Linked DNA regions of Homo sapiens: region 2 is linked to region 1. A link means that fine-mapping ties the variant in region 1 to the expression of a gene that starts in the linked region. Tissue or cell type: esophagus muscle. Region 1 holds a variant in brackets; the other region holds the start of a gene. All regions are shown on one strand. Distances are from middle to middle.

Region 1 (2,689 bases):
CATCTAGCTAAACAGTGTGTGCCTGCTAGGCCCAAAGGAAAAGGCCTGCTTGTTATTTTGAGTTGTCCAGGATGCATTTATGACTCAATAAAGGAGGCCTTGGCATTACCAGAATAATTACTTACTAAAACAAGCCTATAAAACCAAAATGTTGCCTCAACTAAAAGGCAAACAGAGAACATTCTTTTTCTTTTAGTGTTAACATGTAAACCTAGTGAAGTGTATTTAGATTTCTATAAAATCAGCTCTGGGTGCAAAAGGGATGGTTGATTTACCAGGTGGACAGCATCACCAATGCCCCGGGGTTACAAAGGGGCTAAGGGGAAGTGGTCCTGTCAAATATGAAAGGATGCTCATCCATAATGGACCCGGCCTTGCTTGTCACAGGCAGAAATTATGGCTTGGTGGTGAAGAAGCAGACTCCGGAGTCTGACAGTGGGATCTGAGGCTGCACCACCGTAAGCAGTGTGATGTCGGCCGTGACCCAAACTCTCTGTGTCTCATCTGCATGGTGGAGATAATGTCATATCTGTTTTATGGGATCATTGAAAAAAAATGAATAAAATAATACATGTAAACGGCTTCTTAGAACAACACATGGTATAGAATATGGCACACAATGGTAGCTCCGATGTTTACAAATAATGGGATCCATTATTGTAACAAAAGTAACTTTCATTTTTTACATATATTAGTAATAAGCATAAAATTTTTAAATATTGTTAATTCTGCCTTTTATTCTTTCATTTGAAATGTTTTTATTTCATTTCATTTTTAGTTGACAAATAACTATATAAATATGAGGTGCAATGTGATGTTTTCATATATACATGCATTGTAGAATGACTAAATCTACCTATTTAGCATATCCATTACCTCATGTACTTATCATTTTTGTGTGGTAAGAACATTTAAAATCTACTCTTTTTGCAGTTTTGAAATATGCAACCTGTAGTCATCATGCTGTACAATAGGTTACTAAAACTTATTCCTTCTGTCTAACTCAAACTTTATACCCTTTGACCAACATCTCCCCTTTCTCCATCACCCCTCCCATCCCCACCAGCCTCCGGTAACCACCATTCTACTCTCTATTTCTTTGAGTTTGACTTTTTTGTGACAACATGGATGAACCTGGAGGACATTATGCTAAGTGAAATAAGCCAGACACAGAAAAACAAATACTACATGAGCTCACTTACATGTGGAATCTAAAAAAGAATAAATATTTTTGGAACACTAAGTGT[C/G]AGCACATAGTGTCTGACACTATGCTAAGCATTTCAAATAGTGTATCCCGCTTAATCCTCTCAAGGTAAAATTCCTATCCAACCTCTGGTAAGTGGAGAACTAGAAATAGGGTTGCCAGATTTAGCAAATAAAAATACAAGATAACTAGTTAAATATGTATTTCAAACAATAAATATTTCTTTAGAATAAGCATGTCTGAAGGGTCGCAAGGGATAGAGTTACATATCTTACAACCCTAACTAGAGACCAAGATCCCAGATCTATTTCATCCAAAGCCCATCCTCTTTCTACCCTCACTACACTAAACTACAGGCAGAATATAACTTATTCTTTGTATATTTCTTTCTTTAGTGACATGGTTTGGCTGTGTCCCCACCCAAGTCTCATTTTGAATAATATCCCCCATAATTCCCACGTGTTGTGGAAGGAACCTGATGGGAGATAACTGAATCATGGGGACGGTTTCCCCCATACTGTTCTCGTGGTAGTGAATAAGTCTCACAAGATCTGATGGTTTTATAAGGGGTTTCCCCTTTTTCTTGGCTCTCATTTTCTCTTGCCTGCCACCATGTAAGATGTGACTTTTGCCTTCCACCATGATTGTGAGGCCTCTCCAGCCACGTGGAACTGTGAGTCCATTAAACCTCTTTTCTTTATAAATTACCCAATCTTGGGTATGTCTTTATCAGCAGCATGAAAATGGACTAATATACCTAGTATTTTTTCCCAAACAAGAAGTTTCTTCAGGAAGAAATATATTGTTCATAAATTGCATTTGGTTATCAACTATCAGGGAAAGTAAAATGCTGAGGCCAAGTAAGATAAACCATTGCAGCTGGCTAAAGCGCTGCCACTTCAAGAGCTGTCACATCAAATCTCTTTGTTTTCCTGAAATTATGATCTTAGGACATGTCAGCAATTACTAAAAGCCTTTAAACACAAAGTATCCAAATAATATTATATGTTGGGAAAAAATATTTTTGCATCACAACTTACAGCTATAAATTTTACTTTAAAGTATTTTAAAATTTTTTTCTCAATGATAAAAATCCACAATCTTACTCACTCATTCAACAAATATTACTGATTGTCTCTATGTCAAGGCACTATATAGATGCTAAATAAGCCAAACAAACACCATCCTTGCCCTCATGGATTTACACTCTAGTGAAGGAGCATAAGATAATTAAATAAGCACAAACACAAATGCATAGTCACAACCATCACAAGATCTATGGAAAAGTACATGAAGAGATGAGCCTAATAGTGGGACTTGAGTTCAGAGAGGGCTTCCAGGAAGTGGTTATACCTGAGCTGAGACCTGAACGATGAGAAGGATTTAACCAGAAAGTATTAATGGGAGGGTTAATAGCATATGCAAAGATCCCCTGGGATAAAGGAGCATGGCAAGGATGAGGAACTGAAAGATTTATTCAGCTGA
Region 2 (2,689 bases), 150 kb after region 1:
TGCAGTACTCTAGGTATAAAGTGATTAGACTATTGGTAGAAGTAAGAATGTAGAAAAAAACTGGACTACCTGAATATCTTGAAGGAAGAAAAGATAGAATTTTGTAACACTTTAGTAAGAGGGCATGATACAGAGGAAGGAGTCAAAATTAGCTGCAAATTTTCTTCCCTTTCAGAATGAAAGAATGACTATAACATCTACAGAAATAGTGTAGCTGGTGTGAATGGGTGGGAAGATAAAAATATATTTTGTTGGGTAAGGACTGTATTTCTATATTTAATATACCATGCAGTGCCTTAACATGGTGTTTTACACATAACGGATAATCAATAATTGCATCAATGTACTACATTTGAAAAAAGCAGCAGAGCAACTACGTGCACGTCTCAAAGCAACTGGGAAAACAGGACTAGAAGACAGTGAATAAGTGACAAGATTATAGGTGAGCAGGGGGAGTAGAGGTGCTTTCTTTGCATCCCTAGAGCCTGGTTTGGTGTTTGGCACACAGCCAGCCCTCAATTCACATTTACCAAATAAATGAACCTATATCATTTGCATAGACATAATAGCTGAACCCATGGGAATAGATCTTAAACCAGAGAACATGCAGTTAAAAAAGAACCCTTCTTTCCTATGCCCTGCACTGCTAACAATTGCCTGCCTCAGAAGAAGCAATTCTAAACATACCTTGAGTTCAGGATAATTGGTGGAGTTGGAATTTCAGGAACTGTTTTTTGTTGCTGTTGTTTGTTTGTTTGTTTGTTTGTTTTGGTTGGGGGAGGTGTATTCTAGATTTAAGACATCAAAGTGACAGACTTGCCGCCTTCAAAGTTATATCCATTTTGTACAACGGTCAGATTATCTCCATAAGTTAGAGCTTGTAAGTGCAATCAGGGCCATTCAGGCCCCCAAATAGAAACCTCCCTTATTAGCTGGACTGCTGTATAGCATTCGCTAACTAAAAGGTTATCGGATTCCCCTCTCTCCTTTCAAGCTGACCTGACAGCCCTTTCTATTCCCATCCTCAAGGGGGCGGTGACTACGGAGCCACTCCTTATACACGGACGCTCAAAACTGCACCAAAACTTCCCTGCTCGGCTCCCCGGTGCGTCAAACTCTGAGGCCACCGCCTCAGACTGAGCCTGCGCATACAAGAGGTGCAGAGCAAGCGCATGCGTCGTGACGGCCCGGCTTAGGCGACTCTGGGCGGGTCTGGGCCGCTCCAGTGTTTTGGGGCACAGAAGCTGTGGGAGGAGCTGGAGGCTTCACCGTGGTAACCACAGCGCCGCTGCTGCCCCGCCTTGCAGGCCTCAGGACTGTCATCGCCTCTGGGTGTGAGGGTACTTTGGCCACCGTCCCCGGAAATAACCGCGCCTGCCTCTCAAGATACCCCATCCTCTCCACGCCGCTGCCGCTGCCGCCATGCAAGGGGAGGACGCCAGATACCTCAAAAGGTGACGACTCCCCAAGGCTCTGTCCTACCCTCCTTGCCAGGGCCCTGAAGATGTTCTTGGGTTGGCTGTGAGATGTCACTGGGCAACGCTAGTTTAGCAGACGGGATGGGAAGCAGGGAGAGAAGTCACCGAAAGGAGAGGGAAAAGGTGAAGTGGAGAAAAAAGGAGAGCTCTGGGGGGGTTTCAAAGTCCTTTGACCTGACTCGGCGGAGCCCTGACAGCATTGAAAGATGGTTTCTTCGCTACATCACCTTATTCCAGGGGGAGAGGGAGGTAGGGCAAGGTAAACCGCGTCTTTTGTTTTTTTTTTCGCCTCTTCCCAGACTCTCCATTTTCCCATAATAGATAAATCCCATGAGAGCCTGGGAATAAAGTCTGGTGCATCCGCCCTCAGGCCTCAGTTTGGGGTTCATTGCCATGGGCTTTTGAAATGATGAAGGGGAAAGAAGTGGTGGATTCTACTTTTTGGAAGGCTGAATTGAGATGTTGATTTCCAGTCTCTTTCTGCTTTCCGCATCCATGTCATCCATTTGACTCCCATGTATACAACATAATTTTTGTAGGACATTTAGTAATTATTAAGAGGTTTGTTCAGAAGTTTGATGACAATAAAATAGGCCATAATTTCTTTTAAATATAGTATCAGTTACTCAAAAAAATTGTAGTCTGTTGGGATTATTTGGGTGCTGGCAAATACTCAGATCATTCCTGATTTGGAAAAAAAAAAAGATACCTCCCACTGAACCAAGAGTAAGCAGTGATCCAATAGAAAAAAATTTTAATTCAGTACTGATTCAGTAAATACCCTGGAAAAGTCGCATGTATTCCTTTGGGCACGGTTTCCTCATCTGAAAATGGGACAGGCGTTACCTTCTGAGAGATACAAGGACGAAAGATGAAATACTTTTAAAAAATGAAACATGAATGTAAGGTGGTGGTATTATTTCAAGTCATAATACACTTGCAGTGAATATTTTTATTCTGGCTTGGCTGAGCTCTCATCATCACAGAAAGATCTTCCAAGTGTTAGTAGACTCATAGAAGGGATTCAAACAATTGTATAATAAATAAATCAACTCTATTGTCCTGGCAAGACAGGCATATATTGACTGTCTTTTTTATTTTATGTAAATATATCTGAAACTGGCAAATAGCCAGACTTTGTCAGTAAAAATTTTTAAATGAATATATAAGCCTACATCAGTGTTTATTTCCTCACTGAATTTTACTTAACG

What was found. PIP is the estimated chance that this variant, and not a neighbour inherited with it, causes the effect.
Region 2: it holds the start of KIFAP3, and the variant in region 1 is fine-mapped to the expression of KIFAP3 in esophagus muscle (GTEx, PIP above 0.99).

Annotation. Positions count from the first base shown.
Region 1 is chr1:170,223,243-170,225,931 of GRCh38, reverse strand. All of the region lies in intron 1 of LINC01681 (long intergenic non-protein coding RNA 1681), which reads right to left. Among named protein-coding and RNA genes, the nearest start is that of LINC01681, 50 kb to the right of the region's middle. The variant C/G (reference allele first, on the strand shown) is at 1,248.
Region 2 is chr1:170,073,201-170,075,889 of GRCh38, reverse strand. KIFAP3 (kinesin associated protein 3) reads left to right here and starts at 1,195. Exons shown (of 20, transcript NM_014970.4): 1 at 1,195-1,454. The coding sequence starts at 1,423. RefSeq lists enhancers at 967-1,266, 1,327-1,386.